2 separate regions of the Homo sapiens genome follow, and region 1 is linked to region 2. Evidence: fine-mapped expression QTL. A gene starts in region 2. The other region holds a variant in brackets. All regions are shown on one strand. Distances are from middle to middle.

What was found.
Region 1: its variant is fine-mapped to the expression of PHLDB2 in lung (TOPMed, PIP 0.96).

Annotation. Positions count from the first base shown.
Region 1 is chr3:111,797,606-111,805,944 of GRCh38, reverse strand. It overlaps LOC107984087 (a long non-coding RNA gene), which reads left to right and starts at 7,350. Exons shown (of 4, transcript XR_001740848.2): 1 at 7,350-7,392. LOC105374040 (a long non-coding RNA gene) reads left to right here. Exons shown (of 4, transcript XR_924333.4): 4 at 1,497-6,767. It also overlaps a transcript of PHLDB2 not described here. The variant A/G (reference allele first, on the strand shown) is at 4,030.
Region 2 is chr3:111,854,375-111,862,713 of GRCh38, reverse strand. It overlaps PHLDB2 (pleckstrin homology like domain family B member 2), which reads right to left and starts at 3,449. Exons shown (of 18, transcript NM_001134438.2): 1 at 3,138-3,449. It overlaps LOC105374040 (a long non-coding RNA gene), which reads left to right and starts at 1,898. Exons shown (of 4, transcript XR_924333.4): 1 at 1,898-2,054. RefSeq lists enhancers at 2,016-2,125, 2,456-3,040, 3,041-3,627 and a silencer at 2,932-2,991.

The sequences.
Region 1 (8,339 bases), 57 kb after region 2:
AATGGAATTTTATATAATACAAAATGTAGTCTTCTGTGACTGGCTTCTTTCTTGACTTCTTGTATCTTTTCTTTTTTCTTCTTCTTTTTTTTTTTTTTGCATACATCTATGCAACCACCATCACAATCAAGATATAAACATTTCCATCATCCCAAAATTTCCCTGTGTCCTTCCCAGTCAACACTCCCACTCACCACCCCTGGCCCCAGGCACCACTGACCTGCTTTCTGTCACTATAGATTAGATTTGTCTTTACTAGCATTCCATAAAAATGGAATCAGACAGTATGTATACTTTTGTGTCTGGCTTCTTTCACTAAGCTTGCTGTTTATGAGACCCATCCATGTTGTTGCATTTATCCAGTAATTTTTTTTCTTTTTTTTTGAGACGGAGTGTTGCTCTGTCGCCCAGGCTGGAGTGCAGCGGCGCAATCTCGGCTCACTGCAAGCTCCGCCTCCCAGGTTCGTGCCATTCTCCTGCCTCAGCCTCCCGAGTAGCTGGGACTACAGGCATGCGCCACCATGCCCAGCTAATTTTTTTGTATTTTTAGTAAAGACGGGGTTTCACCATGTTAGCCAGGATGGTCTCGAGCTCCTGACCTCGTGATCTGCCCGCCTCAGCCTCCCAAAGTGCTGGGATTACAGGCTTGAGCCACAGCGCCCGGCCCCAGTAATTTTTTTTATTGTTGAGTAGTATTAGCTTGTATGGATATATCATAATTTGTTCTTGGCTATAATGAACAAAGCTGCTATAAACATTTATGTACAAGTCTTTTGTGGACTTATGTTTCATCTCTCTTGGGTAAATTCCTATATCTAGGAGTAGACTTGTTGGGTAACAAGGCACACGTATGTTTAACGTGTTAAGAAATTGTCAAACTGTTCTCCAAAGTGACTGAGGTTGACACTTTCAAATTCTACATTCTTGCTAGCAGTGTATAAGACTTCTGGTTGCTCCACATCCTCCCCAGCACCTAGTATTGTTCTATTATTTTATTTTTCACATGAATAACTTTTTATTTTACCAAAAACTTGATATTGTTCTATTGTTATTTATGTCAATATTTTATTTCTCAGTGAAATTTATTACATAATTTTGAAGTTTTTCTCAAAATAAGAAGTGGCCCACTTTTTAGAAGCCCTGTGTGCAAATTAATTCTTACTGTTCAGCATCACAGTTATTTAAAAAGTCAAATAAACACTGCAGTTTAGCAAAGTTTTCCCCCCAAAATTTCAATGGTAAGTATTAGCTGTAATTTTAAATAAGAAATGAAAGTTTAATTGGGCAAAATCTGGACATCCACATGGAGTAAAGTAGAAACCTATTAGTCAAGTGATGTGGGACTAATTTTTTGAGGTTTAGCTCCATTATTACTGTACTTATGCTGCAGATAGTATATCTTATACTCTGCGTAGAAAACAATACATCAGTAGGTTGGGGCCTAGCATCATCATTTACTTTTTTGCATCTGAGGCTTCTTTCTTTATTTCTAACAGGTTGACCTGAACATCATTGGCTAAACATAGGAAATCAAGAAATTGTTAAAACTTCGCCAAAGTTTTCTACCTCTAATAGTTAAGAGATGATGAAGGGAAGACTCTGTTCTTCAGAAGAATTCAATAATGTCTTCTTTCACAGGCTTTAAAAGATTATCTCTTCAAAGATTCTTCTAACTTTTTGTTTGTTTATAGACCATGTGTTCTCAATAGGAACAATATTGTCCACCAAAGGGTGAAAATTGGTTCTTGGGGGGTTTAACATTTTCTTACTATTTTAATGTATAAAGCACAGATATACCTATATACAGTTCACAAACAACATAATGGTGTCTCTGTGGCATTAAATCTCATGGAGGAGAGGACGATCAGAAAAAATGTCTAAAAAGGCTTCTTTAGGGATGTGATACTGAACAAAAGTTTAGAAACTGAATTAGAGGACAGGAAAGGCACATAAAGAGTTTAAAGGGACTAATCAAACAGGACGTTTTCAACTGATTACATGAATTTGGTCTGAGACTGATTCCTCAGAATGCCCCCCACTCTCAAGATACCATTTCACCTGAAGTCATTAGCTTTGGAATAGAAAGGAACAAATCTACGCTTTGTTAAGAAATATTTGTAAATTGGAAATTTTCATTCTTTATCTCACTTTGTTTTAAAGCAACATCAGAGAAAAAAATTGTTATATCCATTTTTTATAGCTGAGGGAAGTAACGCTCAATGAGGTTAACACTTTCAAATTCTACAAAGAATACACAGTTTCTGAGTGTAATTAGTGAATGTAAGAACCTGAGTTTGTTTGATTTCAAAGCCCATGATTTCCTCCCACTCATGTGCTAGCCAGGGATTGCTGGTGGGTGAGATGGTGTTCCATTCTACTATCCTGAGTTCACTGAAAATTGACTCAAATGCCTGAGTCAGGAATTGATGTGTTCTCACAGCTCGAATTCTGGGAAGACTAGTGGTGGGGGTGGGGCTGTCACTAAGATGTCCAGGAGTTCTGCACGGGGTGGTGGGGGCACATTCTCCCGGGAAGTTTCAACTGGACTGGAGTTTACAGGAATCCAAGAGCTTTGGCTAGAACAGAACCAATCTCAGGATTGCAGAGAACCCTGTTAGTAGCAACCTTACATTCCATTCCATATTTGTCAGTGAGGGAGAGGCACTCTGATCCCCATCAGAAATTTGAAGAACCACATAAGTTTTGGCTAGCTGCCTGTTCCCTCTGCTTCACAGCTTAACGATGAAACTTTTGTTTGCTGTGTTCTTCCATCCTCTGCTCCCAAGTAGCAGATGCCAACCAAGGAATGACTGCTGATTTCAAAATTAGAGAGATGGCCATATAGACTATGAACATATAGATCATTTCTGCTTTTTCTTTTGTTTCTAGAGATTAGTATAAAACTTTTTGTACAACATCCCCTATACTCATTAAATCTGTGACATCCTTGTTGCTACCTGATATCATATATCTGCTTTATTTTATATTTCTGCTTTTCCTTTTCCAGTGACAGGTTGCCATTTTAAAGATGATTAATTATCTATCATTTGGGAGCAGGACCATAACCTTTAACTTTTCCTGACAGGACAAAAAACATGTGTTCACACCACCCACCCTTATTGATTCTCATGGTAAGGAAGAAGAGAGGATCATAAACTAGAAGTGAAAAAATGGAAGTTTTAGTGCTTTTTCTTTAAAAGAGAGAGAATGCATGATGCTTGCCTCACTCTGCTGTAACGAATGTAAGTTAAAACTAAAATACAGTTTAGAAAACTTTCACATATTACTCACAAGAACAAGCTATGAGTGTTGTTATTTTACTATTTGCTAAATGTATAGTACTAATGTCTCTTCTAAGGGACAAATATCAAGCATTTCACAAGAGGTTACACGTCATCTTGCTCTATGCTAGCATGGAAATAAATGAGAGTTGGGAAAACAGGAAATAAATATTCTAAGTTATCAGGGAATGCTGCCAAGGCATCATAGGAGTGTCATTAGTTATTTTGGTTTCTCAACCAAGACCTGAGATACAAGGCTAGTGGGTGGTGTCTAGGACAACACAGAGAAAATGAGGAAGCTCTTGGAAAGTGCTCTCCCCTTGCTCTGTCTCCCCTTTATTCTTCACTCTGTAGGCCAGATCCTCTGGAGGCAGAATGCAGCCACCACTGTGTTTACACTTTGGTACAAGAGAGGTTTCTTGTATGTAAGCACAGTGCTCCATGGAGCCATAGAGATAGCTGGTGGCACTCTGCAGTTTTCTGTGCAGTAGCTTGATAGACTGGAGAAAGCCTGAACTAGGAGCCAAAGTTTTGATGTTAGATGCATAATCATCACAAGTAACACAAATCAATTTTTAGCAAGTTACTTAAATCTTTCTATCCTGGTTAATTTATTGTTTTACATTCTAAAAATTGAGATAGAATTCATATACTATAATATCCACCCTTTATAAAGTCTAGAATTTGATGATATTTGTGATTACATTCACAAAGTTGTGCAACCATCACTGCTATCTTATTCCAGAAC[A/G]TTGTCATCATTCCAAAACAAAACAAAACAAAACAAAACACCCATATCCATGAGCAGTCACTCCTTACTCTTCCCTCCTCCCAGTCCCCAGCAACCACTAATGTATGTTCTGTCTCTATAGACTTGACTATTCCACACATTTCATATAAATGTAATTATATGTTATGTGATCTCTTGTGTCTGTCTCCTTTCACTTAGCATAATATTTTCAAGGTTCATTCATGGTGTTACATGTATCAAAATTTTATTTCTTTTTATGGGCAATAATACTCAATTGTAGCTTATTGTTTAGTCACTCATTCATCTGGTCATCCATCCTTCACCTACTCTTCACTGAATACTTATTATGAACCAGCCTTGTCCTAGGCTCTTGGGACACATTTATTCATATTTGTGACATGAATGAATAAAGGCACAAATTTATTAACTATTATATAAAGATAAATATGAGATCTTCATATCACCTCAGTTAAAAATATTGGGTGAACAGATTGTTTATGAGCTTTTAAAATTTTGAGGTCTTTGTATCCAAAGGAGACCTGAGTTCTTGTTTAGTTTCTGTGTCTACTTACCCCTTGAAACTTAGATTAGAGGAGGGAGGGAGGCCTGCTTCATGAACCCCAGGACTGTGGGTTATTTCAATGTGGCCCTGTGCTCAGAGGGGCCTATGCTTGTTTTAACACTCTGTTGTGACTGTCTTGAAATTCTTAATAACTTTTGAACAAGGGGCCTTGTATTTCATTTTCCACTGGGCCCTGTAATTTATGTGGCCAGTTCTGAAGGGAGCAAATATTTATTAAGTGTCTACTCTGTATTGGCCATTGAATTTGACCCCACAGCTCATGTTGTTTAACAAGTCACATTTCTCTATTTTAAAAATGAGAATGTTACATTTAATATTATTTAAGGTCTCTTCTATGTCTAAATTTCACTAATTCTAAGTCTTGCAAAATGATCTATGAAGGCAATGTATTATACTTGTACCAGCTGATTCATCTTTTCAAGATTTATCTTAATTGGCATAACTTCTTAGAAATCTTCCTTGATTCTTTCCCCAGCCAAATTTAGTAAGCTTTCTTTTGTGTTCTCACACTCCCTCAGTGTTATTAACAGAGCTTTTTATAAAACTGGATTTTATGAAGTAAAAATAGTTTCTGTCTCTCTCATTGCATTGTATGTCCCCTTTAAATCAGGTACTGCATCTTAGTTAACGTGTAACTTGCAAAATGCTTCTTAAAACAAGCAGGATTAAAGAGTCCAATAGTAAAAATGAAAGTTCAGAAATGCCAGTTCATGACATTATTAGAGATGGGAAAATCTGAGGCAAACACATAGTCCACAACAAAGTCACTGGAATATAGAAACTAAAGATATACAGTGAGAAAAGAAATTAGGACATTTGCCCAAGTAAACTTAACTTAAAAGAACTATAGTTTTAAAATGATATATGCATAATAGTATAGGAATTTAATAAACAAAAAGTAATACAAAAGTAATACCTCTCCATAATTTTAAAATAATCAAAAGGCACAGAGGGTATAAAATAAAAATTTCTTTTCATGTAATTTCCCAGTCTCATTTTCCAAAGATATGCTCAATAAGAGTTTCTTGGCCAGGCATGTTGGCTCACGTCTGTAATCCCAGCACTTTGGGAAGCCGAGGCAGGCAGAAACTTGAGCCCACGAATTTAACACTAGCCGGGGAAACATGGCAAAACCCCATCTCTACAGAAAATTGCAAAAACTAGGTGGGCATGGTGGTGCATGCCTGTAGTCCTAGCTACTCAGAAGGTTGAAGTGGGAGGATTACCTGAGCCCAGGGAGGTTGAGTCTGCAGTGAGCCGTGATTGTGCCACCACACTCAAGCCTGGGTAACAGAGTAAGACTCTGTCTCAAAAAAAAAGTTTCTCGAGTATCCTCCTAGAAATGCTTTATGAGGAGTACATTTATACACTCTTGTTATTGCACAAATAGGATTCTATTTATATTTCTATATAGTTATTTTCCTTGCCTTTTACTTAGTAATATTTTTTAGACCTCCTCCCATATTGGTATCTATAGATCTCCCTAATTCATTTTCAGGAGTGCATAGTACTCTATGACATGTGTTGAACACAGTTAAATAAAGCAGTCCTTTCTGATGAATACATAACATTGTTTTCAGTTTCTGTAAATTATGGAAAACCACAATAGATATCTTCACATAGGAAGATATTCACAGTATAAATTTCCAGCAGTGAAATTGCTGGAAGTCTTTATAATTTGATTTTAAGAAAAACTTAATTCAGTACCCAACCTGATGTCTTTGAGACAATTTCACATTTACTTGTTTGTTCTTCTCCCTCACCTTCCTTTAGAATTTCTTTTTTCTGATTGGGATGACATATTTCTAAAGTATTTCTAGCTTTCAAAAAAATAATTTATAGAAAATCAGTCTATATTTTTAAAGACCAATTGAAGCTGTCTACCTCACCAATGTGAAGAACTGAAGTAGAATTTAATTTTCTTTTCTAATACTTTTTTCTAGTATTAAATTCAAAGACTACTATTCCTCTTTTATTTACAGCAGTCTGTGTTCAAATTGTGCTGACACCATGATAGATTTCAGAGTGATTTTTTTGGCTATGTGGGCCTCTCCCATTATAATAAGAGTACCAGCTTCTTAATGCTTGTGATATGATTTGGCTGTGTCCCCACCCAAATCTCATCTTGAATTTTAGTTCCCATAATCCCTAGGTGTCATGGGAGGGACCCAGTGGGAAGTAATGGAATCACGGGGGTGGTTTCCCCCATGCTATTCTTGTGATAGTGAGTTCTCACAAGGTCCAATGGTTTTATAAGGGGCTTCCTGCTTCACTTGGCTCTTATTTTTCTCCTTGCTGCCACCATGTGAAGAAGGATGTGTTTGCTTCCCCTTCTGCCATGATTGTAAGTTTCCTAGGGCCTCCCTAGCCATGCTGAACTGTGAGTCAATCAAACCTCTTTCTTTCATAAATCACCCAGTCTTGGGTATGTCTTTATTAGCAGCATGAGAGTGGACTCATACAGCCTGTCTCCATGTTAGCTCACCTTCCTGGCCCTCATATGAGGTCTAAACAACACTCCTTTGCATAGTAGAAATTCAGCATATATTTTGAAATTGATTGTATTGGAAACATCAAAGATGCCAGATCCTAGAATTGTTCAGATTAAAGATAAAATAACATTTTATTTTATTTTATTTTATTTTATTTTTATTAGAGACAGGCTCCGGCCCTGTCACCCAGCCTTGAGGACAGTGGCATGATCATAGCTCACTGCAGCCTTGGCCTCCTGGGCTCAAGTGATCCTCCTGCCTCAGCCTCCCAAAGTGTTGGGATTACAGGTATGATACACTGCACCTGACTGAAAATATTTTAAATAAATGCTTTAATAATTTCATTGCAGTTTTGTGGCCCAGGTAATTTTCACTTAATCTTACTTGATTACAGAAAGCAGTATGAAAAGTAAACACAAGGAAGCCTAGAACATACCAAAATTCTCCTATACAGATGATTTGAGTTTTAAATATTTTTAGGTCTTATTTCCTTGCTTTCTTTAGAATGATGGTAAAAATTGACTTTTTAAACATCTTTTGAAAAATTAGAGCACTCTCAGATTTAGAATGTTCCCTGATTCTTTTTCTTCTTCTTTTTTTAAGATAGAAAATTTGGGAGTAAATTATAAAGGCCAAGGTCTTAGAAGTTCACCTTGTTTTCTATTCCTCTACAATTGTTTTTCAAATTTTTCAAATTTTAATTTTTTGAGATAGGGTCTCACTGTGTCACCCAGGATGGAGTGCAGTGGCATGATTTTGGCTCACTGCAGCCTCAACCTCCTGAGCTTAAAGGATCTTCCCACCTCAGCCTCCCAGGTAGCTGGGACTACTAGCATGCACCATTACACTTAGCTAATGTTCTTATGTTTTTATAGAGATGGGTGTCTCACTATATCGCCAAGGCTGGCCTCAAACTCATGGGCTCAAGCGATCCTTCCACAGTGGCTTCCCACAGGGCTGTGATTACAGTCGCAAACCACTGCACCCTACCCTATTTCTCTACAATTGAGTAATCACAATTGCGTAGCTTTCGGCAAATCACTTCATTTCTCTGAGGCTTGGTTGTTCTGTTTTCTGCAAAGTTAAGAGCATCTTAAATATCTATCCAGTTCTAAAATGGTAGGACATCAAAGTGGGAGTGATGGTGGAGAAGGGTTGTGAAAGTTGCTTGTAAACATATTTAGCAGATTTACAGAAGTCAAACAAAGCAATGAAAAAGTTCCACATATAGGAGG
Region 2 (8,339 bases):
CTGCTGCATACAAAACGGCTTCTATGATAAGGGTCTCTTGTTTAACACAGTTAAACAAGTTTCTTGAGGATCCAAATCAGATTAAGATGCCTAATCTTGTTAACCTACTCCCCCAGGCAATACTGTAGTGCAGGGTTTGGGGCTGCATAATTGTTTTTGTGTCCCGTGCATGGCAGGGTGCTTAACCGCATCCCAGGCCTCTACCCACTATATGGCAGTAGCACTCTCCTCCTGTCAGTTGCTACAACCAAAAATACGTTGCCAGTATCCTCTGGGGGCCAAAACCCCTCTCCCAGTGAAAACCACAGCTCTAATGTATGTCAGGACTTTAAGATAAAGCACATCACTTAGGTGTTTTTGTTTCAAAAGAGTGACATTTACACAATCAACAATTGGTACACCAAGACTTTACAGATAGATTCATAAGGCACAGGTACTCCACCTAGAAAATGTACAAAGCCACTGTCACTCTAAGCCATCCACAGCACCATAGCACTGCCTCCCTGCTAAGGGTTGAAAATCAGGATATAAAGCCATAACGTTAACTACTCCTTTAAAAATATTTAAAAGGAGACCGGGTGTGGTGGCTCATGCCTGTAATCCCAGTACTTTGGGAGGCCAAGGCAGGTGGATCACCTGAGGTTAAGAGTTTGAGACCAGCCTGACCAACATGGCAAAATCCTGTCACTACTAAAAATAGAAAAATTAGCCAGGTGTGGTGGCAGGCGCCTGTAATCCCAGCTACTCGGGAGGCTGAGGCAGGAAAATGGCTTGAACCAAGGAGGCAGAAGTTGTAGTGAGCCGAGGTAACTTCTCCAATGAACTCGAGAGTCAACCCTTGCTTATAGATCTCAAAATGGAGCTTTGAAGAAAATAGGGAAAACCAGAGATTGGTTAATCACTTTGGCTTATTTTTTCCTCTCTTGCATACACAACAAACACACATGGTAAATAAAACGTTTCTGGAAAGGTTGCTAACGAGTTTCAGCTTGGTCACAGTTATTGAACGGAGGAGTAAGCAAGCTCTCAGTCCAATTTCCCAAGTATCTTTTCCTCCCCTTTTCAAACAGGGATCCAGGCGACACTCGTGGCAGACGATCTCAACACCAAAAGAACAGCAGCTGCCAGCTGCATAAAACAGATTGAGGCCTGCAAATTGACTGAAATGATGACTACTCTTAACCAGACATCTCATTTTTCCACTTCTGACAGGCTGAGATCTGCAAACCTCTGGGTCTCAAGAGATGAAGGCTACATTAGCCAACTAAGACGACAAACTCAACTCTTCCTTGTCATTAAATAATTTGCCAGTTATAAATGGTTTGGTAACTTTACAGAATTTAAGTACATGTAATGTTTAAATTTCCCCATTAAATGTAAGAGGCAAAGAAAATCCTTTTAAATAACTAAGCAGAGGATATGAAAGGGGAGCCAAGAATAGACAGAACTGTTACTTTTCAAAGAACCTTCGCTCTTTATTCAAACAAATATTTACACAATTGAAGGCAACGGCAAGAGAGATATAGCCATTCTGTTAAAATAGTGGGCAACTCTAACGGTTTATTTATCCCAAATCCGACAGTTCTGTTGCTAACCTACCAGGAACCAAGAATTCAAGTGTTCACAGGGCAAAAGTTTAACCTTCTGAAACTGTGGACCTCATTTAGATCTCTCCCAGCCGAATTCAAACGTTAGAATCCCAGAGACATATCTCGAACGCCCAAATTAAACCAAACTAGGAAGCTTAAAATTACACGTCCAATACTTGAAAACCTACATCTGTAACTTACACGTTCATATTACGAAGGGAAATGTGGCTGACAAATATTTACACTAAAAAGACTCCACATTTTTATGCCTCGTCTAGTTACACTCCCAGCTGTGCCTGGCTATGACTAGTTGTGCATTCTAGAGCTCTTTAGAGCTACTTCAGAGTTGCAGGATAAAGATTTCTAGGGAAGAGGGCAGGGCCAGGCGCCCGGAGGATTTCCAGCCACGGGTAGTTTACCGAGAGAAAAAGCTGCGGGCGTCGCTCCCTCTTTTACATAAGAAAGGTAAGTGAGGAACCGCGAAGCAGTTTGACTTCTCAAGCTCTTTCAAACAGGAAACCCCAACCCTGGGAGGGACAGCCTGTCAGCCTTTTAATTTCCTGGTGGTGGCGGGAGTTAGCCAGGTCCTCGGCGCTTTAATAAGTGATGACTGCTAGGGCTAAGTTATTAAGCGAACCAGCAAACGATTCAGCTGCGCCTCCGCCGCGCAGGGAGCTGGAGAAACAGAGGGTTAAAATACTCCCCAAGCCTTCCAGCTGCTATCTCTAGGGGTGCCGAGACGGCCACACTGTAAACTTTCAGTGGGGGGTCAAAGGCCAAATCGAAATCAGCCGCTTTTGGCGGTTAAAGCTCGTAGGTTCACTCTTGAAAGAAAGTGGAACTAGAAGCGCAGCTAGCCAAATATTTGCGGGGAGGGAGTCTTCTCTGAATCCCGCGCCCTACACCATCCAGCAGCGGACCTTCTCTTTCTCAGGGAGCTATCCCAAGGATCCCCATCCCTCTCTCCATGTGCATTCCAGAGTTGCTGGAAAAAGTTGCCCCCAGTTCCCCCACATTCTGCCTGTTTTCTACAATCACTCTGGAAGCATCTTCCCTACCAGACACTCCCTCCCCGGGATCCCCTCAACCGGAGATCTACCCAGCCCCCCGAGAGTCATGCACAACGGGGTTCGCCACCCCCACCCACCCAGCTGCGCAGCCTGGGCACTGCCGACCCCAGCCCGGGCTTTTGTCCCTACAGCCTGTAAAGAAGCAAAGAAACTCTGTGTCCCCGGAGCCCACTCACCGTCTCATCTTTCCTCCAAACCGCCGCTCTACGCTGGCGCCGCCGCCCTAGCGCCTAGCCTTTGCCCCCGCCCACCCTGTCTCCCTCCGTGAGCCCGCCGGCCCCTCCTGACTCGCGGTGAGCAGTCAGCGCGCCCCTCCTCGGCCCGGGCAGCCACTGCCTCCTCTCCGCCCCCAACCCTCCGCAGCGCAACCGGCGGCAACCAACTCGGCCGCGGGGGAGGCAGCGTCCCCGGGACGCACTCCTGGCACACGGAGTCGGCACCACCCCCTCCTCCCGGGCGACCACCGCCGCCTCCTCACCTGGCCATTGGTGCAGCCCGTTCCCGGCGGCGAGAGAAGGCAGGCGCGCTCCTTGCGCCACGCCACACCGTCGGGCCCCCGTCGGGTCCCCCTCGGGCCGCAATGGTGGGCTCCGCGCGGCTGGGTCCGGCACTCTTGACCCCCTTTGTAACCACCGCGGCGGGCACCCAGGGAGTTCGAGCAACGAAGTTGGTGACCTGCCCCGCTCCCAGGCAGTTTGCTGTTGGGGCTTTCACGGCTGCTGGAAGGGCATGGCTGTTTGCCCCATCACTGGGCGCCAGCTTCTCAAAGCTACGTTCGCAGCAACGCAGTAGGGACTTTCGTGGCAGGCTTTTTTTAAGAGCTGAAAGAAGGGCGGGAGGGTTTACGTCCTAGGGTGATGATTTCCTCACCAGACAGCGAAGTATCTATTGGGAAACTCCAGGTGACCGCACCTCCTTCCGACAGTTCGCCCCGGGGCAAGTTTACCAGCTGCGTCAGAAAGCAGGTTTGCAAAATCCTTGGAGAACGGCCTGAGCTAAGGACTGGGGTCAGGAGGGTTTTAAACTCATTCTGATTTTCTTGCAATCATATCTCTTGAAAGTTTTTATATTTTCCCCAATATTTTTCTGAGTTGCTATATCCAATGAAAACAATGCTGATGTAGAGGTCCACCAGCCAATGCTTTATTGGAAGTCAACGAATGAGACCGAGGGTGGCCCATAATCAATCTCGGCACGCGGGAATGTGAACCTCTTCCAAGGTCTGGGCGAGTCCCTAGAGTTACGCAGATGAAGGACATTGGCCCTCGAGAATCTCACACCAGCAAAGAAGAGCACAACGAAGCGCAAACTACTTATGATCATTGTGGCTTTGGGCAAGTTGTTGTAGCTCCCAGCAACAATTTCTTCACCTGGAGTGCAGCAATAAATGATACTGGTGCTGCAGGGCAGCTAATAAGCTTCTGAATAATATATGCAAAGTACTTGGCACCATGAGCAGAACTCAGTATACCGTCACTGAAGAAATAGCTTATTTAATGATTACACTTTTCATATGTGCAAGTAAAAGTTTGACTTTTAGGGAGAGCCTCACCTACGGAATGTCTTTTTTAAATTTCTTTTTTAATTATACTTTAAGTTCTGGGATACATGTGCAGAACGTGCAGGTTTGTTACACAGGTATACATGTGCCATGGTGGTTTGCAGCACCCATCAACCCTTCATCTAGGTTTTAAGCTCCGCATGCATTAGTTATTTGTCCTAATGCTCTCCCTCCCCTTGTCCCCCACCCCCCAACAGGCCTCAGGGTGTGATGTTCCCCTCCCTGGGTCCATATGTTCTCATTGTTCAACTCCCACTTATGATGAGAACATGCAGTGTTTGGTTTTCTGTTCCTGTGTTAGTTTGCTGAGAATGATGGTTTCCAGCATCATCCACGTCCCTGCAAAGGACATGAATTCATTCTTTTTTATGGCTGCATGGTATTCCATGGTGTATATGTGCCACATTTTCTTCATCCAGTCTATCATTGATGGGCACTTGGGTTGGTTCCAAGTCTTTGTTATTGTGAACAGTGCTGCAATAAACATACGTTTGTATGTGTCTTTATAGTAGAATGATTTATAATTCTTTGGGTATATACCCAGTAATGGGATTGCTGGGTCAAATGGTATTTCTAGTTCTAGATCCCTGAGGAATCGCCACACTGTCTTCCACAATGGTTGAACTAACTTATACTCCCACCAACAGTGTAAAAGCGTTCCCATTTCTCCACATTCTCTGCAGCGTCTGTTATTTCCTGACTTTTTAATGATTGCCATTCTAACTGGCGTGAGATGGTATCTCGTTGTGGTTTTGATTTGCATTTCTGTAATGACTAGTGATGATGAGCTTTTTTTCATATGTTTGTTAGGAATGCCGGGTTTTTTAGAGGAATTCTTTTCCCTGTCCTGAGTTTTTGCCCTGCAGAAGCATACATACACTGATCAATCCAACAGTTAAACAGTTAAGTGCTCCAGCAATGTTCTTTTCTCACCCACGTCATCTCTTTCCTCCTCTTTTTTGGATCATCCCCATAAACATACAATCATTTTATTTCCATTACCTTGGAATTTTTTTTTCTTTTCTTTTCTTTTTTTTTTTTTTGAGACAGGGCCTCACTTTGTCACCCAGGTTGGAGTGCAATGGCACAGTCATAGCTCACTGCAGCCTTAACCTCCTGGGCTCAAGTGATCCTCCCACTTCAGCCTCCTGAATAGCTGGGACCACAGGTGCAGACCACCATGCCCAGCTAATATTGAATTTTTTGCAGAGATGGGGTTTCACCACATTGCCCAGACTGTTCTTGAACTCCTGGGCTCAAGCGATCTGTCTGCCTCCGCCACCCTAAGTGTTGGGATGACAGGTGTGAGCCACTGTGCCCAGCCTCCTACTTCCCCTTTATCACTCACTTAGCCCCTGCCACAGTGGCCTCGTAGACTAGATTCCTAGGTAAATCCGTTCTATCTCAGGGCCTTTGTTCTAATTGCCCTCTCTGCCTATAATTCCCTCCTCCCAAGTATCTGCATGGTTCACTCCCTCACTTCCTTCAAGACCCTGTTCAATGTCACCGTGTTGCTCAGGCCTGCTCTGACCACTCTACTTAAAAGTTTAAAATGTGTTTTCCATACTACTTAAATTTACTTTTTGACAAAGTCACCACATTCTACTATATTGTAAAATGTACTTTTTAAATTATGTTTATTGTCTGTCTCTCCTCACTAGAATGTAAGGCAGGCAGGCAGAGAGTTTTGCCTGTTCTCTCCAGTGCTATATCCCTAGTGTGCCTACAAGGATACCGGACATGTAAATGGTGCTCAAGAATAAATGATGGCTTTGACCCAAAGCACTGTGTTGCAAACATTTCCTTGCCTCGAGCAATGCCAGAAATACACTTGACTACACAGACATCTTAGAGACAACCTTTCTCCCTTCAGGTCTAAGGAGAATGTGCACCAACACAGCACATTTAGAATGGCCATAATTAGATTGCCAATATTTATGTCTAAGAAAAAAATAGCTAAATTTATTGAGAGCAATAATTACTATTGTATACGTATCCGGTATTCTTCCAAATATAGGACAATATTAGTTGATGCGGTGAGAGTTACTGTTTGTTACTACTCCCATTTTATAAGTAAAAAAGGAATCACAGAGAAGTCAGTTGTCACTCAGGTAATAAGTTGGTAGAGGCAGAATTTGAGCACTTGTTCTTGAGTTCATTGTCTTTAATGCTACCTTCTACCTCTTTTCTAAGTATGAATGTTACTAGGGGATATTTCTGTATAATGAATAATTCCAAATTACTAGACAAAAAGTAATCCTCACTGGCCTCCCTTCACTGCCTTGTTTTATCTGCTAGCATCTCTATCTCTTAGGATAGCCAAGCTCCTAGAAGGCAAAGGGAGTCATTTTATTCATATTTGTATGAATCATACTCCAAGACTTATATATGGAAGGGACTCAAAAAGTAGTCATTGAATGTGACTTTTTCAAGTGACTAAACCCAGCAAAGTTTCCCATTCCTGATGAGTTAGAGTGGTTTTCAATAGCTTTCATAAGGCCATAGCAGCCTGAAGATAGACGAGACCACCCTGAAGGTGCAAGTCTTAAATTAGATAAATTCAGTCCAGGCTCAATGGCTCATGCCTGTAATCCCAACACCTTGGGAGCCGAGGTAGCAGGATTGCTTGAGATTAGAAGTTCCAGAGCAGCCTGGCCAACATGGCAAAACCCGTCTCTACTAAAAATACAAAAATATTAGCCGGGCATGGTGGTGCACCATCTGTAGTCCCAGCTACTCAGGAGGCTGAGGTGGGAGAATCACCTGAGAATTCGAGGCTGGGTGATCCATGATCGCACCATTGCACTCCAGCCTGGGTGGCAGAGTGAGACCTTGTCGCCAAAAAAAAAAAAAAAAAAAAAAAAGACAAATGCAGACCTCAACATCTATAGAAAGCACTCAATAAAGTGCAACTGTTATTGTTATTATTATATTACCAGACTTTCTTTTAGTAATGGTGATGGAAAGAAAGAAGAAAGAAAGGAAAGAAAAGAAGGAAGGAAGCAAAGAAGGGAGGAAGGAAGGAAGGAAAAAGAGGGAAGCGCGGGAGGGGGAGAGAGAGAAAGAAAGAAAGGAAGGAAGGAAGGAAGAAAGAGAGAGTCTTTCTACCTTTTCTATTTCCTGGGTTCTTTATAATAAAGTTTTCTGTTTAATCACAGACCAGAGTCCTGCCTGCGCTCTGCCATTCCTTATCACTAGAGATATTGTGTTGTAAACTAAACAGCAGACCTTTCTTGTTTGCCTCTCCAGGATCTGTAGTGGTTACAGTCCCTGATCTTACTTTCCTGTGTCCTTCACCCTCTCAGGTGGGGAACCTTAAAGTGTTGCACAGTGTTGAGGCTAAAGCAACTCTATCTTGGATGCTAATCTGCCATGCTGACTTTTTTTTTTCTTTTTACCCTAATTCCATGGAAGATTACCTGTTGACTTCTGATTAACCCGAGTTCTGGGAATTACTCTAAGATTTGTACTTTATCTACTGATACCTTAAATCCTGCCCCTGGGTCAAAACAACCTTGACCATAAATCCTGCCCATGGGCAGATTCACAGAGCATTCTTGCCTCTCCCCAAGGGGTCGACTTCAATTCTCCTACACATTCTTTTCCTTTAGTTTATGTGTCTTGACTCTGGGAGTGACAGCGTGGAGATGCACCATCTTTTTTCACAGCCACTGGGGACATGGCTTCTGTTCATAAGTCTCTATTAAATGTTTCTTTCTGAGAAACTGGACTTGTCAGCCTCTTTCTTTGGCTTTTCAGCTTCTGTGGTCTTTGGGAGTAGGTTTGTACATACCTGCTCACTTTGAAACACATACAGTGATATTATGAATTATTTATGTTATTCCATTTGTAATTATTTTTGCTATTGTTCTCTTTTATTAGAAAAGATCGGTTGGATTTGATTAACTTTTTATGTCCTGAATCTGTATATTTGCTCCTTTCTCTGCAATGATAGCCTAACAAATCTTTGTAGCTATTAACTCATTTCAATCTTACTGCAGTTTAACTCATGGAACAATTGTTTGTGCTGAAGTTCGCTTTAATATTATGATGATTTAATGAATCAAGAAGTTTCTACTTGCAAAGTGCAGTGGAAAAATCATTGACTGTGAAGTAAGG